Linked DNA regions of Homo sapiens. The protein of the gene in region 4 interacts with the protein of the main gene of each other region in a pairwise test. Each region holds a gene or a part of one and is shown on either strand. Other genes may lie near its edges.

Region 1 (8,229 bases), on a different chromosome or scaffold from region 4:
AAAAACAAGAGCTTTACTAACTAAAGTCACTAATGTTGAAGTAACCCAGTACATTTATAAACTGCCTGTCTTGACTGCATAAGACATTTTTTAGGAGTCTCCTTAAAACAAACCGTAAGGGGAAGTCTTAGATAAACAGAGTAGCATAACCGGAATTATCACTGAAATAAGCTTGCACAGTATCGCAATTTCATGGAAGTTTAATTTTGCAAGAGTGACTTAGCTATTTTTAATATCAACAAAGGAACCTAAACACAGCCTGGCCTTGTTATTCAGCATTCTGTTAATCAAAGTATTTGCCAACCCATAGTTTAGCATTCTGTAGTATGATGATTGAAGAAAAAATCTAAACTAACTTTTAGATCCTTAAAATAGATAAAATAATGTTAAGTGCTGTTTTAATAGTAAATATTTATTCATTAGAATAGTAATATTATGTTAGTGATGGTAAGAGCATAGATGGTAACACTTTGTTAACTAGGATCTATTATCCTCCCAGTAATGTCTCATAATAAAAAGTAATTTATTTTTCCATTGAGCATTCTCTATCAATAATTGCTTTTTTGTTTTTTGGGTGTTTTGTTGTTTTTTTTTTTTGAGATGGAGTCTCACCCTGTCCCCTAGGCTGGAGTGCAGTGGCGTGATCTCGGCTGACTGCAGCCTCCGTCTCCCAGGTTCAAGTGATTCTCATGCCTCAGCTTCCCGAATAGCTGGGAATACAGGCACTGGCCACCACGCCTGGCTAATTTTTTTTTGTATTTTTAGTAGAGACGGAGTTTTGCCATGTTGGCCAGACTGGTCTTGAGCTCCTGGCCTCAAGCCATCTGCCTGCCTTAGCCTCCCAAAGTGCTGTGATTATAGGTGTGAGCCACCGCGCCCGGCCAATAATTGTTTATTGTTTTAAATGGGAGTTTATTCTAAGATCAGTAATAATGCTATTACAATGTGTTAGCTTGAATCATATGAAATTGCCATGTTGAGACTGAGAAAAAATCAAAATCAGCAGTCTTATATATTATATAGTTAAACCACTCTCAACTCTTACTGGTTTCTTTTGGTATTTACCTTTATACTTATTTCATTTTTAATGTTTATACTGCTATTTCTTAGCTCTTCACTTTTGGATATTCTCTGTGGACTTCTATTTTGGAAGTTGAAGACTTAACTGTCTCACATAACTATCCTTCCATTTCCCACTCATACTTGACAGTTAGGTCGGTATTCAGGATTTATATGACTGACAGTGTACCTGTTATTCACAGTTGAGCCACGTAGGGTGCTATTACTGTGTTTTCTTCTTGAACAACTTTTGTTGCTCCTGAATTAAATAATTGCCTCTTTTGTTTGTTTGGTTTTCATTTGCTGAGTTTTCTTTGTATCAGTCACTAATTCATTCAAACTCTATGACAAAACTGATTATCTTTGAATATTCTCAGGTAGTCACTCACTTTCATATCTTTTCCCCAGGAGATGGTCCTGCTGGAGCCCCCTCTCTCCTACTCCAGTCTGGAATTGTTTGCTCCCTGGACTACTGCATAGCCATCATCCTGGGACTTCCCTTTGTCATCATCTTGGGAATTCCCTTTGCCTTCCTCCTGTGTTAGGTCTTCTATTTCCTGGACCCTGTGTCTTCCTTATTCTTGAGTAGCTTCCTGAGAAAGGGTACATACAAAATCTGAAATTCCTTCCTGAATTCAGAAGTTACATGTCTGGAAATGCCTTCATTTTACCTTCACTCTTGAATGGTAGTTTAGCTTGGTGTTAAAATCTGGATTGAAAATTAATGTGACTGTTTTGAAGACATTGTTCCATTAGCTTCCAGTGTCACTATTGAGAAGTCCAATGTCATTTTAATCCTCATTCCCTTTTTCTTCCCACTCTGAAAGATTTTAGGATCTTCAGTTTATCCCTGGTGTTCCTGACATTTCATGATGTACCTTGGAATAGATATTTTTCTTTACTTTTGCTTGTGGGGTAGATTGTATTTTCCAAAAAGGCTGTATATGTATGTGTGTGCATACTCCCCCCATCTCACCCAATATGCTATTCTTTGTGCCTCCATCAAGCAGTGGGGTCTTTGTTTCCTCCTCTTGAACCTGTGCAGACAGGAATTCTCCCCCGAACGTTTTGGATCTTGAGCATTGTGTTTTAAGAGCACAGCTGCAAGATCAAGAACATGCACCTGGCACTGCTAGGTGCCCAGCGCCATCAGGCCAGCATCTCCCTTCCCATTTTCCTTGTGACCACTGTTTAGGCATTGAGATTAAGCACTGTAGATGTGTATGTGTTCATTGAGAGAGGGGATTAAGTTTTTTTACTTTTAAATGAAATCAACAATGAAAATATCAATTGACATCAGAGAGAGTTTCTTTTAAGCAGTGAAATGAACCAACATGACGGCTGTCAGGTGCATTTTTTAAAAATCCACCTTAGGAAATGACAAAAAAAGAAATGACCAAAAAGAAACTAACTTGAGCTTCATGATTAAATATGTCATTATTAAATGTGACAAATATATTGTTTGCAAGAATTTCTGTGATGAGAAGATGGAAGCAAAAGGAGCTGCATAAATCACAGCTTCACAGAACATTGTCAGTATTTTTGTGTTTATCTCATGGATACATATTATTATTATTATTTTGAGATGGAGTCTCACTCTGTCACCTAGGCTGGAGTACAGTGGTGCAATCTCGGCTCACCACAACCTCTGCTTCCCGGGTTCAAGCAATTCTCCTGCCTCAGCCTCCCGAGTAGCTGGGACTACAGGCGTGCGCCACCATGTCCAGCTAATTTTTGTATTTCTGGTGGAGACGGGGTTTCACTATGTTGGTCAGGCTGGTCTCGAAATCCTGACCTCGTGATCTGCCTACCTCAGCCTCCCAAAGTGCTGGGATTGCAGGCATGAGCCACCGCATCTGGCCTTGTTTGTTTGTTTGTTTGTTTGTTTGTTTGTTTGTTTGTTTGTGACAGGGTCTCACTCTTTCACCCAGGCTGGAGTGCAGTGGCGTGATCTCGGCTCACTTCGACCTCTGCCTCCCAGGTTCAAGCGATTCTCCTGCCTCAGCCTCCCCAGTTGCTGGGATTACAGGTGCCCGCCACCATGCCTGGCTAATTTGGATACATATTTTTAAAACATCCTTTGTTTACTCTTTAAAAATTTTAAAATTAAAAACCCTTTTTTTTCTATTTATAGCTGCTTTATCATTCATTTGGCTTTTCCATGACACCACCCAAGTGGCTGGATATTACAAGAGAACTTCAGATTCATGACCAAAAATCCGAAGTAGACACTCAGCACTGCCCGGCAAAGCTACCATTGAATCTTAATAAGATCTTTTTGCCTATCACTATTTCATAACTTCTCTCCACTCCTTAAACTTATCAGCAACCCACCCCTCCTACTCAGATAAGCTGACCTCATAGTTCATTGAGGGTTTAGGAGATATCAGACAGAAACCACTCATCTTCCCCCCAACCAAATGTAGAAATCTGCCTTCCTTAGACCCATGTTTTCTGTCTCCTGTCGGAGGCAAGCTCCCCTTTCTACTGTGTTCCTCCTCACATCTTCTATACCTCATGCCCCCTCATATCTCACAGCTTTAGCATTTTTGCCCTCTCTCTTGCATCATCAGCAACTCTCCAGGGGGCTATCCATGTCAGCATACACATATGCCGTGACGTTGCCCATCTTTAAAATCAGAATAAGCTTCAGCAAACAACTTTTCCCTGACCCTCCTCTATCCCTTTCTATTTACCTACATGGTTAAGTCTCTCAAAAGAGAAGTTTACGTGCCTTCCCTACCTCCTCTATAGTACGTACCACCCTCTGAAATTCTGTTGTTTAATAATTTTTGTGTGACTTACCCCTAATAGAAGGTCAGCTCCAGGAAGGCAAGGACCTCATCTGTCCTGTTTACCACTCTGTCCCCTAGGACAGCAGGTGGCACAAGTGTCTACTCAGTACATGGGCAAAAGAGGCACAACTGACCTGGTAAAATAGCTTTTGATTTTTAAAAATTTCTAACAAGAGAATCCATGTTTTTTAATTACTCACCATTTTTTGCTACACTTAAGAATTGAAACAATTATGAAGAATATATTAATGATCAAATTTTGCCCTATGTTACATTTCATTCTTTCATAAGTATGACTTAATATTGGCAGTCTTGGGCCGGGCATGGTGGCTTATGCCTGTAATCCCAGCACTTTGGGAGGTCAAGGCGGGTGGATCATGAGGTCAGGAGTTCAAGACCAGCCTGGCCAAGATGGTGAAACCCCATCTTACTAAAAATACAACAAATTAGCCGGGTGTGGTGGCGGGTGCCTGTAATCCCAGTTACTCGGGAGGCTGAGACAGAGAATTGCTTGAACCTGGGAGGTGGAGGTTGCAGTGAGCCAAGATTGTGCCATTGCACTCCAGCCTGGGTGACAGAGCGAGACTCTGTCTCAAAAAAAAATATATATATATATAATATATATAAATAATATATATATAATATATAATATGTATAATATATATATTATATTATATTATATATTATACATATTATATATTATATATTATATATATTATACATATTATATATTATATATAATATATATATTATACATATTACATATATAATATATATATTATATATATAATATATATATTATACATATTACATGTATAATATATATATTATATATATAATATATATATATATTTGCAGTCTTGCACCTGGACTCTGGCATCAGACTGCTTGGAGTTGAATTCCAGCTCTTTCACTTTTTGCTATGTGACCTCCAGCAGGTTTCCTAACCTCTCTCTTTCTTCATTTGTAATGTGGTTAATAATAGTTCCTACCTCATGTGTTTGTTTTGTGTTCCAAATGAGATAATATGTAAAACACGAAACTCAGTACTCGTCTTGGGAGTAAACTCAATGAAAAATAATAGTAATTATTATAGCCTCCTCCAGTTTATAATATTTGACTCTGACTTGGTCTCTATAATATTTTTGTTCAAAATACTATATCTCCTAGGGTATATGGGCTATCAATATGATGATTCAGCTGTTCTTGGTTTTGTGGGGGGCGGGGGTGTGTTTGTTTTTAAGAGAGAGAGTCTTGTTCTGTCGCCCAGGCTGCAGTGCAGTGGTGTGATCTCCAACTCACTGCAGCCTTAACCTCCAGGGCTCAAACAATCCTCCCACCTCAACCTCCCAAGTAGCTGCGACCACAGGCACACACCAGCATGCCAGGCTAATTTTTTTTCTTTTTTTTTTTTTTTTTTTGTAGAGACAGGGTCTCACTATGTTGCCCAGGCTGGTCTCAAACTCCTGGGCTCAAGTGACCCTACCAGCACCTCCCAAAGTGCTAGGATTACAGGCAGGAGCCACCATGCCCAGCCAATAAATCATTTTGATCACTTGATAAAATATTTTTATTTCAAGCCAAGTCCTGTTCTTTGTTTATTTGGTTTTCTCAGAGGTGAGGTTCTTTCTTCATGTTATTCCACATTAAGTTTTCTTATTTCTGGAAATGGAGCTTTAAAAACACCCAATATATCATCAACAGATTTTTTTTTCTTTTGAAACAGCTATAAGACAATGTTCTTTTCATCTACTAGCTAGCTGGGAGGGTAAATATATGTAGCAGTACGAAGTATATTCTGAGGACCACATAAAAAATACAGACAGGCTCTGTAGAAGTTCAGGCTAGGGAGAGTCAGGTACTTCTAACCCTAAGGGATTCCTACAGCTTTTCTGCATGTTAAATAGTCTGTTTTAGCTTATTCTCTTATTACTTGTCTTGGTTTTTACTTTGAAAGTTTGCTTAATAATCATGGGAATATTTTAGATTTTAAAATACAAAATATACAAGCTAAACTTGAGAGCAGTTTTTAGTTGTAGAAACTGTTTCTTGAAGTAATTGACTTAGCGTTTGCTCTGCCTCTTTCTTTTCTTACCTAGGTAGGTAGTGGGGACTCCTTCAATTATCTGAGCAATTCAAATCTCAGAATGTAGTGTTGGGTAAATTGAGGGTTCTAAAAGAATGCCAGATGGTTTGAAAGGAACTGTGAGCATTCCAACTAGTGCAGTCCTTTGAAAGCCAGCTGGCAGAGCCTCCTGTGCTTTGGAGGTAGGAACCAGACACTTTGTTCCATGCCAGCTGGCCCAAGAATAGCTGGCCAGTGGCCTTGCTTTTGGCTGGCCACTCTTGGGAAAGCTGGCCTGGGCCCTCCATGTGCCCTAAGGATAGTCTGATACCAGAGAGTTGCACTGGCCCTCCATAGTACCCCAGGGAGTTGGAGAAAGCCTGCAGTGGCAAGGGAAAGGAAACTGCTATTTAGATAATGTTACAAGTGAACCTCGTGTTACAAATTTGCTCTGGAAATTTAATGTAATTTGAATTTTTATGGATTCACTACTGTTAGGTGTATTAAAGTTGCAATGAACTGTAGTGAATGTTTTTATATTGTAAGTAACTTCCAGGTTACCTGCTTTTAAAGTTCCTGTTTTTATTTGTCAACTTTTCTTAAAGTGAGGTTTGCCCGTTCCTTTTGTTGTCATCTTCTAAAGTTTTGATCATTTGAATTAGGAAAATTTTTCCATCTTGTTGTAAAGCTTGCTCCTGTGTAAACCATAGACTTTTTTTTTTTTTTGAGACAGAGACTTGCTCTGTCACCCAGGCTGGAGTGCAGTGGTGCTCTTTCTGCTCACCGCAACCTCTGCCTCCTGGGTTCAAGCGATTCTTCTGCCTCAGCCTCCCAAGTAGCTAGGATTACAGGCATGCGCCACCACACTCAGCTAATTTTTGTATTTTTAGTAGAGACAGGGTTTCACCATGTTGGCCAGGCTGGTCTTGACCTCAGGTGTTCTACCCGCCTCAGCCTCCTAGAGTGCGGGGATTACAAATGTGAGCCACCACACCTAGCCATAAACCATAGATTCTATAGAAGGTTAATTATGTATGTAGTCTTAGCTTGTCTCTCATTTTGATGGTACTTATGTTTTCCCGATTAGACAGGTGCTTGTATCAGATACAGTTCTTCACTTCCTTTAGCAGATTTAATATCATAATTGTTTAATTGACAGCAAAATAAGTGCAAATATCATACTGTAAGAATAATGAGCATTCAGTTCATTTGATGACAGTGTTTATTGAATTCTCAAAATTAATAGTTTCACTGCTGTCTATCAGTATGCTTTATGTTGCCTTAATTTTTTTTTCAAATGTGCAGATTGAATGGTGCTGCAGTATCTGTTAAGTTTATTAAGTTCATCTTGGCAAACCAAAAAAAAATTATAGCTACCTGTATCTCTTTATTGTTCCTTCCCAAATCTGAGCATGTGAAATTATGCTCAGTGATATAAATTTGAAATAGAACCTAAATATTATATCTAAATAGTCTCTTTATCTTGGACTGAATGAAAAAAGTTGACAGATAATGAAACGTCAAATTATGAGTTAATGTAGTTTGTGGGAAATGGGTGGGAAGGGAAATCAAAGGTGTAGGCTTTCATTCATTTTCTTCAGCATGAAACAAGTTGCAAAACTTCTTCAGAAATGTGTTGGAAATCTCATGCATGGCTATAATTAAATAAAGGCTTTTACTCAAACTTGTCGATTATCTCTGTAAACAGGGCAGATGGAATTTTCGGCGTAGTAAGATTTTTTTTTTCTTAAATCACAGAACAGTATATCAATAGCCAGGGGCAATATTATACTCAGAAAATCATCTTTCATATTGGTTAACCTACACTAAAAAGCTTTTATGCCAGTAGCTTTAAATATATTGCCTATTTACTGCTTACAGCAATCCTCAAAGAGTTGTTTATGGATGACAAACTAAATGTCAAAGAAGTAACCTGTTCAGGTTTACAAGTTCAGGGTCCAGTTTTGAACCTAGGCCTTCATCCTCTAGAGCCCACCACCTGTCACAGTGGATGTTATCAACTTTTCACAAGAATACAGTCTCTTTACTATTCAGATGTTATCCTGTACTGGCACCTCTGGAGGGCTATTGATAATGGAAGTGCAGAGATCTTTGCAGATAATAGCAGGAGAATAAGAAGAGATTTGGGGTAGGGGGCAGAATCTATATTTTTTAAATCTCTTCTGATGCTCCTGCAGAGCTACTGCAGTAAATAAAAATGACTTGTCAGAATCAGATGGAGCAAAGGGGGTTTATTAGTTTCTTAACATTGCTGTAACACAATTACTATAAACTTCGTGGCTTTAAACA
Region 2 (8,757 bases), on a different chromosome or scaffold from region 4:
ACAGCCTTCCATACCTAAGGTAAAGCAAAGATTATTTTAATAACTTATGAGTTATTCTAAGTTCAAATATGAATTCCCCAAAGCAAAATGGCTACTGATTTGCTCACATTTGTTGCCTATTACCAAACAAAGGAAAAATGAAAATGCTAAATAAAAATATTGTTAGGACTGAGATGCAGCTTATCAGAATTCAGATCTTTTCCAAGTGTTTACTGGTGATGCCATCATATATATGTATTATATAAGGCTGATAGGAAAACTTAAATTTAGGAAATTCATTTAAATTTCTAAGGTAACTCTCTGGTACTTCATTCCTTTCTCCTGTTCCTTCCTCTATCTTTTATCTTTACTATATAGATACTATATTAGTTTGTTGTATTTAAATAAACAGGGAATGTCAGTTCTCTCTATTAACTTGGTTAGATTACAGCCCTAATTATTCAAACACTCACATAGGCATTGTGGTGATTTAATAGATGTAATTAAAGTCTTGAATCAGTTGACTTTAAGTAAAGAAGATTATCCTCAATAATCTGGGTGGGTCTGATTGAGTCAGTTAAATGTACTTAAGAGCAGAACTGAGGATTCCCTGAGGAAGAAGAAATTCTGCCTGTAGACAGCAGCTTCAGCTCCAACCCTAGAGTTACAGGGGTCTGTCCTCTGGATTCCGGACTTGCTGGACCAGCCCACAGAACTGTGTAAGCCAATTCCTTGCAATAAATCTCTTAGGATATGTCTTCTGCTGACTCTGTTTCTCTAGTTGAATCTTGACTGATAAAAAGTTTTATTTCAGATTCTTTCAACATACTGGAGGAGAATAAAGAGAGGAAAAAGAAGTAGATACTTGTTTGTAAAATTGCTCACTTAGATATCCTCTCTAAAATTATAGAGCTGAACAGATGACGGAATCTCAGAACCAGTTAAATAAGAAACACTATGTGTAGCTAAACTGAGGTTCAAGCCTACAAACTGATTAAAAGATATATATACATTATAAAAGATTCAGAGATAAAACTGGAGTCATTATTGTGTTAATTTTCATTTATATGTGAAAAGCAATAGTTTCTTATATTTCTAAAATATGCTTTAGAATTTAATGTCCAGAAAATGATTGCTAGTGAATTTTCATTAGGTAGAAATAGAAATTTTCAGATAATGTAATTTTACCTCTTTCCAGTCATTCTACAGGTAATTATACAAAAACCACACATATTCCAAATGCAATTCATTACTAAGATCTGTGATCACACTAACCATCAATAGCCACTTTGAGTAGTTCTTTGTGGTAGAGGAAGTGATAAAAAACTAAAAATCAGTGAAGTGGTAAGGAAAATTTGGAACATCGCCTCCCTGTGATTTAGGCCTGTGTAGACGGCTTTCTGTAGGCAATGGCATGTCTTACTGCTCTTTAACTGGTGGGACTCCCAACGAAGAATCCTGGCATTTGGGTGTGCAGCTCAATATATCTGACGATATAAGAAAGAGGATGATGAATGTTAAGTTGCTAGTTTACCTCTAGAGGGAATGGCCCTGCTTCTGGGAAGGTGGGAGGGGTTCCCAACGGGAAGTACGCCTCAGGCAAAGAGGTCCCCATGAACTCTATATAGCATCACACTATAGAACAACATCAAAATCATTCTTAGTAGGAAGGCTTACAGATACATTACATCCACATGAGAAAATGCTAACAATGTAGAGTCCTGAGGGTTATTCTGAAGATGAAACACCAACCATGTAAAATGATAGTTGTAATTATCTAACACAATTTTGATAATACTGCTCTATCACTGTACATATTGGTACTTGTCTTAGTTGGGTTCTCCGGGATGCAGATGCTGATATAAAGTTTTCAGTGCAAGAGATTCACTGCGGAGCAATGTCTGTTAAAATAAAAAGGACTGGGCAGGGGGAGCTGTCGCAACATGCTGCAGAGCTGAAAAAGTCTCTGCCAGCTTCACAGGGAACTCTGAAAGTTTGTCCCTTTAAGGGCTTCAGTGTCTGGCAAAAATAGCCAGAGCCTTGTACCACTGCCTTGCTCAGTTAGTGGCTGGGTGCCACCCTGAAAATAGCACCTCCTCAGGTTGAAAGCTGAGGGAGACCCTGACAAAGCTACCAATTGGAAGTTGTCTGACAGCCACATTCCTTCCAGCTGGGCAGAGTGTGCTTTCTTGAAAGGGAATCTGGGCAGCTTATCTCCATGTCTACTCCAGTACTGCAGAGCAGCACTAGTAAAATTTTGGGTGGCTGTGTGTTTGGAGATGAAAATTGATCAAGCCAGAATGAGAGGTGTTAGTGAAGTGCACTAAAATTCTACAATTCTACTTGAGGTAGCTTCTAGTGCTGCACCACTGCAAATTCCTTAGATAACTAGAGTTGTCGCCATAATACCAGGGATTGAAAATATTATTGGATGTTGCTTAAGGTCTGTAAAATGGTAAAGAATATTGTTATTCCCACTGCATCTCAAGTAAGTTTCTCCTAGTGGGACAACTCAGTGCCTCTGCTTGTAATGGTCCATTACAGGTCACATGGGCTTAGTTGTAAAGTGGGCAAAAGAAGCTCAGAATGGCTCTTTTGGGGATGATGAATAAGAATTATTATTTTACATAGATCAAGAAGGTGGGATTTAAAGAAGTCAGATTGGCTCTTTGTGATACATTGCTATCTTTTTATGTCTTCTGCACGTTTCACAGTAGTGGTGGCTAGGAAGAGGAAAGAGACAAGGACTCTTCTTTATTAGGTGCATTATGCTTAATATAGTGCTTAATATGGTGGAGGCTCTGATGTCTGTCATCACCTACTAGTGATTTGGCATTAGCCAAGTTCATGAAACTCCTTGTGCCTTATTTTCCCCCCTCATCTGTTAACCAAGGAGTGCAACTGTGCCTATATCATGAAGTTCTGGTGAGGCTAAAATAATAGATGTATAGTACTGGCTTAGAAAGGGCTCTATACTAGTAAGCTGTTGTTCTACTTCTCCTTCCCCTCTTTCTCTTCCTCATTACAAATACGCTTTCCTGCTGAATTTGTTACTCCACTAGATTAGCAAAATGTTCAGAGAATCTGGGAGGAGGGTAAAATAGAAAGAATCTGTTACTCTATCAGGATTCAAGATGTCTGCTTTTGGTCAGATCTTTGATTTTTACTTTTATGTTCTCAGTGCTGCATTGGGTGTAAGAAATGGTCTCTGCCCTGAGCAGCCATCTATTTGAGAAACAGATGAACACATGAATGATTAATGAAAACACATATGCATATAAAATTAAGTTCTAAATAAATCTTATAGATCGTAAGTGATATAAGGATCTAATTTCAGTTTGCTGATACTGGCTGTTGTTTTGGTCATCGAGAGGCAATACCATTTGGAGTGAAATTGTGAGAGTGAGCGTTTGTACCAGTAATACCAATAAAATGGCATATGTTTATTGGCTTAGAAACTAAAATACATTAAGATCAAAACAAGGCAAGTTTAACAATATTTAAGTATGAGATATCACTGCCTCTTATTGTTAGCACAGTAATGCTTTATGCTATTAGACATGTCAAAACGGCACAAATAGGAAGAGTTGATGAATGCTTTAAAAAGAACTATGAGGAAGGCTTACATTTTTTAGTTGTCAATCTCTCAAAGAGTTTCTGTTTTTATTCTATCTTGCTATTTTAACCAGTTGATTAGGCTCACCCAGTGGCAGTCTTCATTTCAAGGATCTCCTCTGGACATTCATGAAGGAAATAAATGGGGCTCCAGATCCCTTTCCTTCCCTTCAGGGCGCTCCACTGTAAGATCATTTAGGGAAAATGTGGTGTTATGTTAAAAACATAGCTGGGCCACATCAAGCAGCATCATAGTTTTTAGGGTATAGAACGTTGGTCTTCAGGTTAAAAGGTACTTTTCGCTGCTCTGTCATACTCTTCTACTTGCTAGAGAAATATGCTTTATGCCGTGTCATGTGTGGTTAACCAGACAGTGAGATACTACTAACAGTGCTCCCAAGTGATTCCTTGCTGTTAAATCAATTGGAATTATTGAGTATTACCACAAAATAATCCTATCTGATTTCATTACTTTCTTCTAACGTCCTTCCAGTAACCTAGAACTCTAGAGACCTCTTTCTTTGAGAGTTGTCTGGAGAGTCCGTTGGATTTTTAAATCTCTTATTACCAAAAAGTGGAAAAAAGAGTTTAAAAAGTAACCAAAGAGCTAGTGCCTGTAGTCTCAGCTACTCCAGAGGCTGAGGCAGGTGGATAGCTTGGGCCGAGGAGTTCGAGGCTACAGTGAGCCATGACTGCGCCTGCTAACAGCCACTGCACTCCAGTCTGGGCAATATAGTGAGACCCCATCTCTAAAAAAACAACAAACAAAAACAAAAATTACCCCACAGAAGAATTTCAGGGCAGTGGAAATACTCTGTAGGATACTATAATGATGGATACCTGCCATTACACATTTGTTCTAACTCGAGGAGTATACAACAACCTGAGTGAACCCTGAGGTAACTATGGACTTTGAGTGATGATGAGGTGTCAATGCAGGTTCATCAGTCGTAACACATGTACCACTCTGAGGGGGGATGTTGATAATGGTGGGGGGTTATGCATGCGTAGGAGCCAAGTGTATATGGGATATCTCTGTAACTTCTCAATTTTTCTGTAAACTCTAACTACTCTATATTAGTCTTTAAAAAATCGCTTATCTTACGAATGATTTTGAATAAGCGTTTTGGGAATGTTCTAGAGATGAATCTCCTCCCCATGTCCTACGCTGGGTGAGGAAGTGTCGGGTACCCGGGCGACCTGTCCTCAGGTGTTCTAGGAACGCGGCCCCATCCCTTGTCAGCCTCTGTCTCTGTGTGGTGAGAAGGCGCACTGGCTCGTGCCTGCGCGAAACTCGCGCACACAGAAAAGACCAATCAAGGACGGGTCATTCCCGCCCCCCGCGCGCCTTTTGCGACCGCCCACTCGACAGGTTGACAACCTAGACAGCTCCCCCGGACTTGCCTTACTTTTCCATCTCCTCCCACCCAGCTATACCCTCCCACTGGCGGCGCGGATGGCACGCCGGCGGAGCCAGCGAGTCTGCGCGAGCGGTCCGAGCATGCTCAATAGCGCGCGCGGCGCCCCGGAGCTTCTCCGCGGAACCGCGACCAACGCGGAGGTCTCGGCGGCCGCTGCGGGAGCCACAGGAAGTGAAGAGCTTCCGCCGGGAGACCGCGGCTGCAGGAACGGAGGCGGAAGGGGCCCTGCGGCGACGACGTCGTCGACGGGGGTGGCCGTGGGAGCTGAGCACGGAGAAGACTCCCTCTCTCGGAAGCCGGATCCCGAGCCGGGCAGGATGGATCACCACCAGCCGGGGACTGGGCGCTACCAGGTGGTGAGTTCCCGGCCTCCTGTGCCTCCCGGGACTGCCTCCCGCCGCGGCGTCCCGAGAGTCCCTTTCCTCAGGTTATTCCCGGAGGAAAAGCTGTGGCTTTTTTTTGTTGTGTTTTGTTTTGTTTTTTTGGATCTTCTGGCTGGAGCTGCTTCACTCGCCTCACCTGCGCACTCCTGCCTAGGACTCCTTCGAAACCCTTCTCTCTCGCCCCAAGTCTGCTTAGCTCCTCACCCGCACCCTTAGCCCCGCTGTGAGACGCCCTCCCTCCACACACCTTACAACTTGTATCCGTTTTAATTTCTCACTTTATCATTTTCTTATTCTCTGACTCAGTCACTCCTGAGACATTCTAGTCGATTGTCTACTGGAAATGGGGCTGACTTCACATACCTGCCCGGAAGGTGATCGCCGTCATAAATGGGGTGGGTGAGTAGGTGGGTGGAGGTGTAAGTACTGCGTGGGGTGGGATGTGGATTTGGCAAAAATGTGGGTTAGGAATTGTGGAACTGTAGAGAAAGACTAGCCATAATGCTGATCTTGTCTCTCTGCTCGTTAACCTTGTCATTTTGTCCTTTTCCATTATGTTAGTATTAAAAATGACTGTATTTTTTGGTAATCCCCACTTTTTCTTTCTTTCTTTCTTTCTTTTTTTTTTTTTTTTTTTTTTTTTTGGTTAGAGGGGAAACAGAGGTAGTTTTAGTAGAACAAATTCTAATCTTGTTTGAAAAATTATTTTTCGTTAAATACAAGGTTTTCCAGCTTAACTGTGTAAACTTTGGTAACTATGTTGAAAAAAGTGAAATGTGTTCCTCTATATTTTCAGTGTCAATTTTTAAATATATTTTTCTTTGTGTATTCTGGTGGTGACGTTGGAGATTCCTGTTGTAAACCTTAGTTAAAGATGGACTGAGCAATAGTTGACTCTGCTGTTGTGCTGTTGCAGCTAGGTAGCATGTCATTCTACAAACTTTCAGCCCATTTACTGAGGGAGAGGAGAAAAACAATACATAGCACTGGTGATGCAGTTTATGGTTTATAAAATTTTACAAATTTAGGTATGTTAGTCCCAGGTTTCAACTTTCAAATCTATTTGCACATGTAAGACAGGTTATAAGCCAAGACTTTCTATTAATAAGTACATTTTGGCAAATATGAAGGAACTGTAAGATGAGATCCTAAAGTATGTAATTTTGCATTTTTCTAAGATAAAAGCTCATGAGGCTTCCATTTTCAATTGGTTTGCATTCCTTAAAACCTACAAAAGGTCCATATTCCGAATTCTTTGAAAATTTATCAGCTTTTCTCAACAACTTGGGAAATACTGTTTCTCCCAGTATGGAAAGCGTTTTTCAAGTTGTCAGTGTACACCCTTTTGATGGTTTGAAAGGCATTTCTAGGTTTGTAAATGTTAGCAAAAATAAAATGATATAAATATTGAATAATATCAGCAGTGAAACTTGTTTCATTTTTCCTACAGACGTCACTACCCAAAACACTGTTAATTTATGTAGCTCTCAGTTTTAAGATATTTGTTTTCCCAACAACTCCTTTCAAAATAAATGGGCATATTTTATTGCTGCCCCCTCCCCTCGTTTTTTTCAAACTGACGATGTGTCCTACATAGACTTTGAATGTTCCTTGAGAACAGAGGGCAAAAATCAGTTCTTCTAAAGATAAAGCCTACCAGTCCCTCTAAAGGTAGTACTTTAGGTAGGACATCGATCTGTTCTCCTTGTAAGGCAACTTACAACTAACATTGTAAGGCAATGTTAGTGTTAGAGTTACACAATTTACGTAGTCATTTAACCTATCTAGTATAACTCTTGGTTTTGTTTATAATGGCCTGATTAATAACATCAGTGTATGCCAGAGAAAAAGCTGAATTGACATTTTCAATAGACTTTTTAAACTAGGGATCAGTCTTCAGCTCTGGCTTATATGATGAACACAACTATTTTGTGGTTGCCTTTAGCTCAGTTTTTGGGAAAACTGGAATGCTTAATAAACTGGAGCAATAAACCACTTGAGTTGTTGAATGTTAAGGGATGACTAAGTCAGGAGATAGGCAAGTATACTTAGGGGTGAGATGGTATGCAATGTTAATTTTTCACTTACTTAAAGAGTTTAAAAACAGCTTTTCATACTGGAAAGCTAGCAGTGATGCTCAGGGTCATCAGAAGGACTTACTACCATTAGCCAATGCACAAGCTTTATCTAGAAACTGCTTTTTCTGTGATCTCTTCTTTCCTTTCATTGTTAAAAGCATCCAAAATTTATTGAGTAAAGCAGTGGATAACAGTTTAGAGCTACAAAAATTCTTGATTGTTACCCTTCTAATTTCAGAAAAAGCCAGGTATGACACGTAATTTTATGGGAAATTCAGTTTTGTTTGTTAGTAAATGAGCAGTGTTGCTAACTATGACGAAGTTGACTTGGCTTGCAGCTGCTAGACCACATTCTAACTTTGATGTTCGTTATTTTATTATTTATTTATTTATTTATTTTTATTTTTTGAGATGGAGTGTCTGTCACTCAGGCTGGAGTGCAGTGGCGTGATCTCGGCTCACTGCAACATCCGCCTCCTGGGTTCAAGTGATTTTCCTGCCTCAGCCTCCTGAGTCACTGGGACTACAAGTGTGGTGCACCACACCTGGCTAATTTTTGTATTTTAGTAGAGATGGGGTTTCAGCATGTTGGCCAGGCTGGTCTCGAACTCCTGACCTCAAATAATCTGCCCGCCTTGGCCTCTCAAAGTGCTGGGATTACAGGTGTGAGCCACAGAGCCCGGCCAAAGTTCTCTATTTTAAAGGATTATGTACCTGTACCAAGCTGACTTCTAAGATTGTACCTGTACCAAGCTGACTTCTTATTCTGTGTACAAGTTAAATTGGCAGTGTTGATTGTAGCAGTAATTTCCCAAACTGTATTTCAGAATGATAGTAAGTGTAACTGGAAGATTTATAATACATTAGCATATTAAAACCATGAAAAATTCTGCAGTAAAGACAGTGATTTGGATTTCTTTAACCTAGCTCTTCCTAATCTTTGTTTTGTTTTGTTCTTTGTTTTTAAAATTTTAAGATTATGTTAACATTTCTACAATATCAATTTTCTATGGAACATAATTTGAAGTATTCATTCTACAAAGATCTGAGTACTTTGCTCTTGTATCTGGGGAATTAGAGTTGCCCTCGATAAATTAGCTGAGAAGGAGGCTTGAAGGAGGCCTGACTATTAACGGGTAAAAAACCTACAGGTTTTAAAGCCATCTGGGCTTATATATTAGATTGTGCTGTTTGCAATTTGTGAGACCTTGCTTAGTTACTTTACATCTTGAAGCCTCAGTTTCCTTATATTAGTATCTACCTGACAAAGATTATTGTGAG
Region 3 (8,229 bases), on a different chromosome or scaffold from region 4:
GGGTTTGTTCTCATTGTCAAAGACTCAAAGTGGCTCAGTAACTTGCCTCAAGGTCACAGGCTGCTAAGTAGTGATTATAAGGATATACACACACTCACCTACTTAAAACACAGGCTCACAGTCCAGATATAGGTGTATGCATTAGCAGATATATACACATGCATATGTATTCTCTTATGTACCCATATATACGTATACAGACATATCTTTGTACATTTGTGTGCAGTTTTATGAGCCCCGATCATACTTGCACATACTTTTGCACGTGTCCATGTGTATCTTGTTCTCAGACATGTGCATTCATACATTTGCACATGTGTATCATGCACATGTATCTACAAAGGCATGCTAGATAAATAATGAAATAGGTTCATAATTCTATTTTGTAATGTTCTTCACACAATGTTATTAATGTCTTCTATATAAAATATTTTTAATGTCTGCATGGCATGTAATTGTATGGCTGAATCATAATTTAACTAATTGCTTATCTTTGGTCACTAAGAATGTTTACAGTTTTTTTCATTGAAATTTATTTCACATACGTCTTCAACCGTTTCCTTAGCATAAATTACTAGCCATGGAAATGCCTGGTCAGCGAATATGCATTTTTAAAAGGCTTTTGAATTATAGAATGATGGTGAATTGTCCAGGCAACTTGATAGGAGCATGATACTCTTTGGTTGTCACACAGGGCTGTTCTGACTTCTATTTGATCTGGTTAATCAAATTGAGCTAGTTTTCTCACCAAGTAAATGTAATGGAAAACTGTATGATTCATTCATAAATGCAAACACAGTTTTGTCTTTATGGTCTTTTTATTGGTAGTGTAATATGTGGACAACTTGAATTTAGCATAGTGACAGACTATGCAGAAAGGGTAGGCTCAACCAGGTGTGGTGGCTCACACCTGTAATCACAGCACTTTGGGAGGCCGAGGTGGGCGGATCACTTGAGGTCAGGAGTTCGAGACCAGCCTGGCCAACATGGCAAAACCTTGCCTCTACTAAAAATACAAAAATTAGCCAGGTGTGGTGGCACTCACCTGTAATCCCAGCTACTTGGGAGGCTGAGGCAGGAGAATTGCTTGAACCTGGGAGGCAGAAGTTGCAGTGAGCCAAGATTGTGCCACTGAACCCCAGCCTGGGTGACAGAGTGGGACTGTCTCAAAAAAAACCAAAACAAAACAAAACAAAAAATGGCCAGGCAAGGTGGCTCATGCCTGTAATCCCAGCACTTTGGGAGGCCAAGGCAGGCAGATCACAAAGATCACGAGGTCAAGAGATTGAGACCATCCTGGCCAACATGTGAAACCCCATCTCTATTAAAAATACAAAAATTAGCTGGGCGTGGTGGCGTGCACCTGTAGTCCCAGCTACTCAGGAGGCTGAGGCAGGAGAATCGCTTGAACCTGGGAGGCAGATGTTTCAGTGAACTGAGATCGTGCCACTGCACTCCTGCCTGGCGACAGAGCAAGACTCTGTTTAAAAAAAAAAGCACGGTGTGGTGGTGCACATCTGTAACTCCAGCTACTTGGGAGGCTGAGGCAGGAAAATCACTTGAACCCAGGAGGCAGAGTTTGCAGTAGGCTGGGATCGCGCCACTGTACTCCAGGTTGGGTGAGCAAGACTGTCTTAAAAAAAAAAAAAAAAAAAGGCACCGAGGTGGGCGGATCACAAGGTCAGGAGATCGAGACCATCCTGGCTAACATGGTGAAACCCCATCTCTACTAAAAATACAAAAAATTAGTTGGGCGTGGTGGCACGTGCCTGTAGTAGTCCCAGCTACTCGGGAGGCTGAGGCAGGAGAAACCCGGGAGGTGAAGATTGCAGTGAGCCGAGATCGCGCCACTGCACTCCAGGCTGGGCGACGAAGTGAGACTCTGTCCAAAAAAAAAAAAAAGAGGCTAGGCTTATAGGTTCCCCTGGCATTATTTTATTTTTTTTTTCATTTTTGCCTTTTGAAACTGAGACTGTCTCAGACAGTATGGAAGCACTATTTTAGAAAGACCTAAGTAGGCCCATACTGAGTGCTGAGAAACCTGTTGCGTGTTTCTCTCTCTGAGGACGTTAACTCCCGTTCATCCATAGATGAACGCAGATCTTCTGCGGTAGATGTGTGCATGAATTTTGCCAATTCATTTCAAGTATTTTGGGATACTTGGATTTGAATTCAATGTAAGTGGGTGATGATGACACTGCCATGTAGGTTCAAACAGATTACAGAATGTTTAGTTCTGGACTTGCCTCATTACCTGCTAAAGAAGTTGCCCACTTGTGAGCATCACCAATACTCTGTATGATAGTTTGATGACATTATAGTGCAGATTTTGGAATGGTATACTTTTGGATAAATTCTCTCAGGATTATGGAGGAATATTTTGATGAGCATAAGAATTTCATCTCTGATAGGTCAAACCATATTCATGTTAAATTATTAGATGAAGTAATGATCCTGGAGGAAGGAATGAATAGTGCTTATGTGGCTTTTTTGCTTATTTTTCAGTTTCAAAAGAAGTTATATCACAGAATGCCAACATAACCTAAATGTCAAAGTTTCTTAAGTTATATGCTGTATTTGTGGCCTACATGGTCAGTGATCAAAGAAAATTTATAAAAATATTAGGAAGATGGGTAAATTATTCCTTTGAAAACTTTAATTGTGGTAAAATACACATAAAATTTACCATGTTAACCACTTTTAAGTATACAGTTTAGTGGCATTAAGTACATTCACATTGTTGTGGAACCAGTCCATCTCCAGAACTTTGTCACCTTGCAGAACTGAAACTCCATATCCATTAAACAATAACTCTCCATTCCCCCTCCTCCAGCCCCTGGAAGCCACCATTCTACTTTCTATGTATTTGACTACCGTAGGTACCTCTCATAAGTGGAATTAGACAGGATTTGTCCTTTTGTGACTGGCATATGTCACTTAGCATAATGTCTTCAGAGTTCATCCATGTTGTAGCATGTGTCAGAATTTCCTGCCTCTTTAAGGCTGAATAATAGTCCATTTTATATATGTACCACATTTTGTTTATGCATTCATTTGTTGACGGATGCTTGGTTTGCTTCTACCTTTTGGTCATTGTGAGTAATGCTGCTATAAAAAACATGAGTCTACAAATATCTTTCAAGTCCCTGCTTTCAGTTCTTTTGGATATACCCAGAAATGGAATTGCTGGGTCATACGGCAATTCTATTTTTAAGTTTTCGAGAAACTCCCATACTGTTTTCCATGGCAGCTTCACCATTTTATTTTCCCACCAACAATGCATAAGGATTCCAATTTCTCCATATCCTCAACATACTTGTTATGTTCTCTTTTTTGTTTTTGTTTTTTTGATAGTAGCCATCTAATGGGTGTGAAGTGGTATCTCATTGCAGTATTGATCCCTATTTCCCTAATAATTAGCGATGTTGAGCATCTTTTCATGTGCTTATTGGCCATTGATATTTTCTTTAGAGAAAATGTGTATTCATGTTCTTTGTTCATTTTTGAATTGAGTTTTTTGTTGTCGAGTTGTAGGAGTAATTTCTTCATGATGTTTACATTTTCAACTTTTTACTATGGAAATTTCAAACACATACAATAATAAAGTAGTGTAAGAAATTTTATGTACCATCACCCAGCTTCAGCAATTGTGAATGAATGGCCAATATTATTTCACTTATACTCACCACATTATTTTGAAACGAATCCTAGAAATCATATATTGATAAATATTTCTATGTGTAACGCTAAAAGAAAACAAATGGTATGATATTTCAAGAAGATATCACATGAGGAATATATCATGAGAGCTCTCTTGTAATCTGTGAGGAGTATGGAAACAGGATTTGTCAGTGTCGGGCTGTGGATCCATAACTAACTGTCCTTTGTATTGATTGGGCTCACTCTTGCCAAGCCTCATGCTTTGTTTTTGTAGCAGTGATAGATTCCTGTTAATCTATCCTTGTTTTCTTACCTGATCCCATGGGTGACCACTTGTTAGGCAAGATTTATTTGGCTTAATCATACTATCTGTGTCCTGAAAATAGGGCAGTGCTTCCTGGTTTGGGCAGAAACCAAGGCCCAGTTGAACTGCTCTAGGGAATTTTGCTCTAAGCTGATGCCACCAGTAGTTTAACTGCACATAACTTCAAATTGTTTTATCCTAGACATTAATTATATTTCATAATTTTATGGTAGATTATAAAGTAAATCCTACCATGAGAATAACTTCATATTTTTATTAAGAAAGAAAAAAAGTCTCCAAGAGATTCAAGTGACATCCTCAGATTTATTTGTTTTTAGGGCTTTAAAATAATTATTTTGGTTTCTTAAAATGTTCTTGTTTTACCTTTAAGCAAGTACAACAGCTTAGAAGAATTATATTCTTTTTTGTTTGTTTGTTTTGAGATGGAGTGTCTTTCTTCTTGCTCAGGCTGGAAGGCAATGGCGCGATCTCGGCTCACTGCAACCTCCGCCTCCCAGGTTCAAGCGATTCTCCTGCCTCAGCCTCCTGAGTAGCTGGGATTACAGGTGCCCACCACCACGCCCAGCTAATTTTTTGTATTTTTCGTAGAGATGGGGTTTCACCATGTTGGCCAGGCTGGTCTTGAACTCCTGACCTCAAGTGATCTGCCCGCCTCGGTCTCCCAAAGTGCTGGGATTACAGGTGTGAGCCACTGCGCCCGGCCTATATTCTTATAATAATGGACAATTTAGATAAAGCAACTTTAATACTTCTGTTCCATTCATACTGAAAATTGGCATGATGGTTTATCTTTTTTTCAAGTCATTGTTGCCAATAAGCTAGGCAACTGGCAAACATCATGTATGAAATTTTTTGGGCTTGACATACTTTCCAGTGGTAATTGCTTCTAGTGGTTGGCTAGGTGGGGGTATGAGTTAGAGTAGGCTCTGGGTATCCACAGGTTCTACATTCGCAGATTCAACCAACTGCAGATTGAAAATAGGGGAAAATAACCATACAATAATAAATAATAGTGCAAGTAAAATATACACTATAACAGCTATTTTACATAGCATTTACATTGTATTAAGTGTTATAAGTAAAGATGATTTAAAGTACATGAGGTAGGTTATGTGTAAATACTATACCATTTTATGTCAGAGGCTTGTGCATCCTCCCATTTTGGTATCTGTGGGGAGTCCTGGAACCAATTCCCAGTGGATACTGAGGGATGACTGTATGATATGTCTTGTTAACTTGACCAAGAGTGGTAGTAAAGCAAGTGTAACTTGATATCACTTAGCACATCCTGCTGTTACAATAAGGCTTACTCATGATTTTTCTGAATAACATAATTTATATTAAATGTCCTAAATACTAGCACTGATCAAGTTTAAGAGCATTCCTAGTGAAATATTTTCTTATTAATGCAGTTCCCTTCATATGTATATTTATTTATTTATTTCCTTCCTTCCTTCCTTCCTTCCTTCTTTCTCTCTCTCTCTCTCTCTCTTTCTTTCTTTCTTTCAACAGAGTCTTGCTCTGTTCCCCAGGCTGGAGTGCAGTGGCGCAATCTTGGCACACTGCAACCCCTGCCTTCCAGTTTGAAGCCATTCTCCTGCCTCAGCCTCTGGAGTAGCTGGGACTACAGGTGCCCGCCAGCAGGCCCGGCTAATTTTTGTATTTTTAGTAGAGGTGGGGTTTCACCATGTTGGCCAGGCTAGTCTCGAACTCCTGACTTCAAATGATCTACCCACCTTGGCTTACAGAGATTACAGGTGTGAGCCACCATGCCCAGGCTACCTTCATATGTATTTTTCTTTTCTCTTCTCTCCTCTTCTTTTTTATTTATTTATTTATTTATTTTTGAGACAGGGTCTGGTTCTGTCACCTAGGCTGTAGTGCAGTGGTGAGAGCTCTGCTCACTGCAATCTCCGCCTCCTGGGTTCAAGAGATTCTCGTGCCTCAGCTTCCCAAGTAGCTGGTGTTACAGGTGCATGCCACCACGCCTGGCTAATTTTTGTATTTTTAGTAGAGATGGGGTTTCACCACGTTGCCCAGGCTGGTCTCGAACTCCTGGCCTTAAGTGATCTGCCCATCTCTGCCTCCCAAAGTGCTGGGATTACAGGCATGAGCCACCGTGCCCGGCCCATATGTATAATATATTTCTTATCCCCCTCCCCGAGCAATTTAGCATAATCTTTGACCATTTTTCTGTTTTTGTCTTTTAAATTAGTTTATCTCAGCAATATTAATTAGTACTTACCATAATCAAAGGCTTGAATACAATTTGGAGGTCTATCTGGAGACTGGACAATTTATGAATAGAGATATAAGGGTTTAGGGAGTGGTGCCTGTTTAATAATGATTTCATTTTCTTTTTTTGCTTTTTTTTTTTTTTTGAGACGGAGTCTCACTCTGTCGCCAGGCTGGAGTGCAGTGGCGAAATCTCAGCTCACTGCAACCTCCGCCTCCTGGGCTCAAGTGATTCTCCTGCCTCAGTCTCCTGAGTAGCTGGGACTACAGGCGCCCGCTATCACGCCCAGCTAATTTTTTCTATTTTTAGCAGAGGGGGTTTCACCATGTTGGCCAAGATGGTCTCGATCTCTTGACCTCGTGATCCACCCGCCTCCATCTCCCAAAGTGCTGGGATTACAGGTGTGAGCCACTGCGCCTGGCCGATTTCATTTTATCATTCGATGCTTAAATGTGATATTTAAAATTAAGCATTTTGTATTAAATAGTAATACATTCTTCATGTGCTAGATTCAAACAGTAACTTTCTAAAGAAAAACTTGATTTCCCTTTCCTCCCTATCTCTTTGCAGAGCTGTAACTGCTCCTCAAGTTTGGTGTGTGTTCTACAGGCTTTTTTTTTTTTTTTTTTGAGACAGGGCCTCACTCTGCACCCAGGCTGGAGTGCAGCCACATAGTCTCGGCTCACTGCAACCCTCCATCTTCAGGCTTTCTTCTTAACCTTTCCTTGGCTTTAAATGTTTTTTAAATAAATCTGTACTTTCAAATAGACTTTACTTTTTGGAACTTTTTTCCCCCTAAGATGGGTTCCTGCTATGTTGCTACCCAGGCTGGCGTCAAACTCCTTGGCTCAAGCGATCATTCCCCCACTGACCTCCCAAGTAGCTGGGACCACAGGCACACGCCAGCACACCCAGCTGAAACATTTTTAATTTTTCAGAAACACTGAGAAGACAGTAGAGAGTTTCCATATGCCCTATGCCCAGCTTTCCCTATTAGCATCTTATATCAGTATGGTACGGTTTTCACAATTATTGAACCAATATTAGTACATTGTTATCAATTAAAGTCTGTACTTTGTTCAGATTTTCTAAGTTTTTACCTAATGTCCTTTTTCTGTTCCAGGATCCCATCCAGGATCCAGGATGATATAATGTGGTAATGTTACATTTAGTCGTCCTGTCTCCTTAGGCTCTTCTTGGCTGTGAGTTTCTCAAACTTTCCTTGTTTTTGATGAGCTTGACAGTTTTGAGGAGTATTGGTCAGGTCTTTGTAGAATGTCCCTCAATTGGGGTTTGTTTGATGTTTTTCTCATGATTAGACTGGGGCTGTGGATTTGGGGGAAGACCACAGGTAAAGTGCTGTTCTCATCACATCATATCAAGAATGCACACTTTCAACATGACTTATCATTGTTGACATTGACCTTGATCACCTGGCTGAGGTAGTGTTTCTCAGGTTTCTCTTCTGTAAAGATACGTTTTACCCCACTTTCCATACTTACTCTTGGGAAGGAAGTCACTATGCATGGTCCACACATAAGGAGTGGGGAGTTATGTAACACCTCGCTGAGGGCCAAGTATTGACATGAATTATTTGGAATTTCCTGCATGGGGCATTTGTCTCTGCTCTGATAATTTGTTTAGTATTTATATCTGTATAGACTCATAAATATTTATTTTATTCTTCCAATTATCCAATAACTGCTTTATTTTATTGCTTAAATTGCATACCTCCATCATTGTGGATTTTTTTTTAACCACTTCCATACTTTTTGGCACTAGGCTCATCTTATATATTTCCTGCACTATCCTAGAATCAGGCATTTTTCCAAGGAGCCTAGGTTCCTTTTATTGAAAAATAATACTACAAACCAAGATCTGTGCTCCTTGCTACTAGGGTGTCATTGCTTTTAGGCCTTCTAAGCTGACAGAGCAAGGAACTATATATGTCTGTATATTAACCTGTGGGTATACACATCTGTAACTATTTCTGTATGTACCATCTATC
Region 4 (4,808 bases):
TTCTCCCAAAGTGCTAGGATTATAAGTATGAGCCACCACACCTGACCAAAAGTTTCTTACATAATTTTTTTTTTGTAGAGGCAGAGTCTCACTATGTTGCCCATGCTGGTCTCAAACTTCCAGCCTCAAGTAATCCTCCCACCTCAGCCTCCCAAAGTGCTAGGATTACATGTGTGAGCCATCTCACCTGGCTTCTTCTTTTAAAAAATACAGGGTCTCAACTATGTGTCCCAGACTCAGTGATCATAGCTCAATGTAACCAGTGAACTTTGGGCTTAAGTTATTCTCTTATCTTAACCTCCCAAGTAGCTAGGACTACAGGAGAACACCATCACACCCAGCTACTTAATTTTGTAGACAGGATCTCACTATGTTGCCTAGGGTGGTCTTGAACTCCTGGCTTCAAGAGATCCTCTTGCCTCAGCCTCTGAAAGGGTTGGGATTACAGGTATAAGCCACCGTGCCAGGCCCAGCCCTCATGAAGACATACATACTTGCTAGGTGATGGGTACATCTATTCTTATGTGTTTAAAAATTGTGGTCTATGTGTGGTGGCTCATGCCTATAATCCCAGCACTTTGGGAGGCTGAGGCAGGAGGATTGCTTGAGGCCAGAGTTCAAGACCAGCCTGGACACAGAGAGATGCCATCTCTAGAAAATATATATTTTTTATTTTATTTTTTGAGACGGAGTCTCGCTCTGTTGCCCAGCCTGGAGTGCAGTGGCGCGATCTTGGCTCACTGCAACTTCTGCCTCCCGGGTTCAAGCAATTCTCCCGCCTAAGCCTCCTGAGTAGCTAGAACTACAGGTGCCCGCCACCATGCCCAGCTAATATTCTTATTTTTAGTAGAGACGGGGTTTCACCATGTTGGTCAGGCTGGTCTCGAACCCCTGACCTCGTGATCCACCCGCCTCGGCCTCCCAAAGTGCTGGGATTACAGGTGTGAGCCACCGCGCCCGGCCCAAAATATTTTTAAAATTAGCTGGGCATGGTGATGCATGCTGTAGTCCCAGCAACTTGGGGCCACGGTGAGAGGGTCAGTTGAGCCCAGGAAGTGGAGGCTGCAATGAGCTGTTTGCGCCACTGCATTCCAGCCTAGCCAACAAAGTAAGACCCTGTCCTCCTTGCCGCTCCCCACCCCCTCAAAACTAAAAGAAAATATCAAATTAAAAAAAAAAATTCTCAATTAAAAAAAAAAGACGGGCAGGTTTGCAGATCATAGAACTTTTATTTAGATGGAATCATTGCGAATTACATAGAAGCTACCAGCCTAAGCCAAACCCATGAGGTTCATGTGAACTTACAGTTACACAAATAAGAAACAAATGGTACATCCAAAACCATAAGGAAATATTCTGATGCCCAGATGATGAAGACTGGGGTGAATTAAGTCCACACATTTATTTCAAGTTGTTAAAGAGTTTGTGGGCCACCTAGATGGGGGAAAGAAAAGGAGGTAATCAATTGGCAGCTTTAATGTCATGGCTTACAAGGTCCTTCAAGACCTGAAACAGTACTGCCCCTCTTCTCACCACTCCCCTTCTCACATAGGCAAGCAGCACTTGAGTCCTAGTGAACTCCCCACTTTTTTCATCTTTTATTCTTCCTTTAGAATTTAGATCTGATAACTGTCATTTCCTGCAAGCCTTCTCTAAACAAGCCCCTATCCACACACAAATCTGTCCCTCCTATCTTTCCACAAAAACTTGTACCTCCCCATCAGTGACATTAACATTACATATTAATTCAACAGGACATCTCCTATATGCCAGGTAGTGTTCTAAGTGCTGAGTGAGTTATAACTGTAACAAAACATGCCTGCCACTTAAGAAACTTACAGGGTAATGAGTTAAAATGAACACATAAATAAGGTAACCTGTGATAATGGGAAATGCTAGGAGGAAAATAAATGGGAGGCGGGGCGGGGGGTTCAGTTAATATTACCCTGAGAAAGGTATACCTGAGAGACTTACCAAAGTTTAGCACTTGTTCTACTTCTGTTTCCTATGCTGGCTCATAAACTCAGTGAAGGAATGAACCATGTCTATCTTACTCCCAGATCCTAAACCAGTGCTTGGCTGACAAATATATGTAAATATTTTTAGAATGACCACACAGTGGGAGGGGGAAAATCAACAGTAGGGATGTTAATTCAGGGAACAGATCATGACTTGCCTATTTTGAACATTTCATACAAATCATATCATACGATATTTTTTACTTTGTGACTGGCTTTTTCCCCTTAGCATTTAGCATGTTTGCAAGGTTTATCCAGGTTGTAGCATGTTCAGTACTTATTTTGTTAAAAATTATGATAAAATACATCTAACATAAAATTTTCCACTTCAGTAATTTTTTTTTTCTATTTTAATCTTTTTTTTTTTTTTTTTTTTGAGGCAGTCTTGCTCTGTCCCCCAGGCTGGAGTGCAGTGGTACAATCTTGGCTCACTGCAACCTCCGCCTCCCGGGTTCAAGTGATTCTCCTGCCTCAGACTCCTGAGTAGCTGGGATTACAAGTGTGCGCCACCACACTCAGCTAATTTTTTTTTTTGAGACAGAGTTTCACTCTTGTTGCCCAGGCTGGAGTGCAATGGCTCACCGCAACCTCTGCCTCCCAGGTTCAAGCGATTCTCCTGCCTCAGCCTCCCTAGTAGCTGGGATTATAGGCATGTGCCACCACGCCCGGCTAATTTTGTATTTTTAGTAGAGACGGTGTTTCTCCATGTTGGTCAGGCTGGTCTCGAACTCCCGACCTCAGGTGATCCACGTGCCTCAGCCTCTGAAAGTGCTGGGATTACAGGCGTGAGCCACCGCACCTGGCCTACACTCAGCTAATTTTTTATTTTAGTAGAGACAAGGTTTCACCATGTTGTCCGAGGTGGTCTCAAACTCCTGACCTCAAGTGACATGCCTGCCTTGGCCTCCCAAAGTGTAGGAGGTGTGAACCACCGCACAAGGCCCCACTTTAATCATTTTTAACTGTACATTTCTGTGGCAGTTAAGTGCATTCCCATTGTTCTACAACCATACAGTCCCCTACAATCTCTAGAACGTCCAATCTTGGGACCTTTTTCATCTTACTAAATCAAAACTATATCCATTAAACAGTAACTCTCCATTTCCTTTCTCCCCTCAGCTCCTGGTTACTACCATTCTACTTTCTGTCTCTATGAATGTGACTGCTATTCTAGGTACCTCACCAAAGTGGAACAATACAATGTTTGTCTTCCTTGACACTTAGTTTAATGTCTCCAAGGTTCATCAATGTTGCAGCACGTGTCAGAGTTTCCCTCCTTTTTTTTTTTTTTTTTGAGACGGAGTTTTGCTCTTGTTGCCCAGGGTGGAGTGCAATGGCGCAACTTTGGCTCACCGCAGCCTCCACCTCCGGGGTTCAAGCAATTCTCCTGTCTCAGCCTCCCGAGTAGCTGGGATTACAGGCGCATATACCACCATGCGCAGCCAATTTTTGTGTTTTTAGTAGAGACGGGGTTTCATCATATTGGTCAAGCTGGTCTCGAACTCCGGACAGCAGGTGATCCACTTGCCTCGGCCTCCCAAAAAGCTGGGATTACAGGCATGAGCTGCTATGCCCAGCCCCTTCTCTTTTTTTTTTTTTTTTTGAGACGGAGTCTTGCTCTGTACCCAGGCTGAAGTGCAGTGGCGTGATCTCAGCTCACTGCAAGCTCCGCCTCCCGGGTTCATGCCAATCTCCTGCCTCAGCCTCCCAAGTAGCTGGTTCTACAAGCACCCGCCACCATGCCCGGCTAATCTTTTGTATTTTGAGACAGGGTTTTACCGTGTTAGCCAGGATAGTCTCAATCTCCTGACCTTGTGATCCGCCTGCCTTGGCCTCCCAAAGTGTTGGGATTACAGGCATGAGCCACCGTGCCCCGGCCCCCTTCTCTTTTAAGGCTGAATAATATCCCATTGTATATACAAAGCACATTTTAAAAAAATCTTTGCATCTATGGATGGAAAATTGGGTTGTTTCTACCTTTTGGCTATTGTGAATATGAATGTGGAAATATCTGTTTAAGCCTACTCTCAATACTTCTGGGTATATACCTAGAAGTGAAATTGCTAGATCATATAGTACATAATTCTATGTTTAATTTTTGAGAAAAGAACTTGTTTTTTTTTTTTTGAGACAGGGTCTCAGTCTGTCACCCAGGCTGGAGTGCAGTGGCGTGATCATGGCTCACTGAAGCCTTGACTTCCCCAGGCTCAGGTGATCCTCCCACCTCAGCCTCCCAAGTAGCTAGGACTACAGGTGTGAGCCAGCTTGCCTGGTTATCTATATCTATCTATCTATCTATCTATCTATCTATCTATCTATCTATCTGTCTATATTTTTTTGAGATGAAGTCTCGCTCTGTCGCCCAGGCTGGAGTGCAGTGGCACAATCTCAGCTCACTGCAAGCTCCGCCTCCCGGGTTCACGCCATTCTCCAGCCTCAGCCTCCCAAGTAGCTGGGACTACAGGCGCCCGCCACCACGCCCGGCTAATTTTTTTGTATTTTTAGTAGAGATGGGGTTTCACCATATTGGCCAGGCTGGTCTCGATCTCCTGACCTCATGATCCACCCGCCTCCGCCTCCCAAAGGGCTGGGATTACAGGCGTGAGCCACCGCGCCCGGCTTTTATATATATATTTTTTGTAAAGACAGGGTTTTACCATGTTGCCCAGGCTGGTCTCAAATTCCTGGGCTCAGGTGATCTGCCTGCCTTGACCTCGCAAAGTTCTGCGATTACAAGCATGAGCCACAGTGCCCAGCCTAGCTGATGGACACTTATGTTGTTTCCACTTT

The links.
Region 1: the proteins of UQCRH (region 4) and RNF24 interact in binary tests that used the Homo sapiens proteins (3 or more experiments, as listed by UniProt).
Region 2: the proteins of UQCRH (region 4) and NDFIP2 interact in binary tests that used the Homo sapiens proteins (3 or more experiments, as listed by UniProt).
Region 3: the proteins of UQCRH (region 4) and NDFIP1 interact in binary tests that used the Homo sapiens proteins (3 or more experiments, as listed by UniProt).

The regions. Positions count from the first base shown.
Region 1 is NC_000020.11:4,004,785-4,013,013, reverse strand, and holds part of RNF24 (RING finger protein 24), read left to right. Parts: intron 1-8,229. UniProt on the Homo sapiens protein: May play a role in TRPCs intracellular trafficking.
Region 2 is NC_000013.11:79,476,154-79,484,910, forward strand, and holds the start of NDFIP2 (NEDD4 family-interacting protein 2), read left to right. Parts: upstream 1-5,001; 5' UTR 5,002-5,050; coding exon 5,051-5,371; intron 5,372-8,757. UniProt on the Homo sapiens protein: Activates HECT domain-containing E3 ubiquitin-protein ligases, including ITCH, NEDD4, NEDD4L, SMURF2, WWP1 and WWP2, and consequently modulates the stability of their targets. As a result, may control many cellular processes.
Region 3 is NC_000005.10:142,110,897-142,119,125, forward strand, and holds part of NDFIP1 (NEDD4 family-interacting protein 1), read left to right. Parts: intron 1-8,229. UniProt on the Homo sapiens protein: Activates HECT domain-containing E3 ubiquitin-protein ligases, including NEDD4 and ITCH, and consequently modulates the stability of their targets. As a result, controls many cellular processes.
Region 4 is NC_000001.11:46,313,178-46,317,985, reverse strand, and holds the end of UQCRH (cytochrome b-c1 complex subunit 6, mitochondrial isoform 1 precursor), read right to left. Parts: intron 1,435-4,808; coding exon 1,402-1,434; 3' UTR 1,210-1,401; downstream 1-1,209. UniProt on the Homo sapiens protein: Component of the ubiquinol-cytochrome c oxidoreductase, a multisubunit transmembrane complex that is part of the mitochondrial electron transport chain which drives oxidative phosphorylation.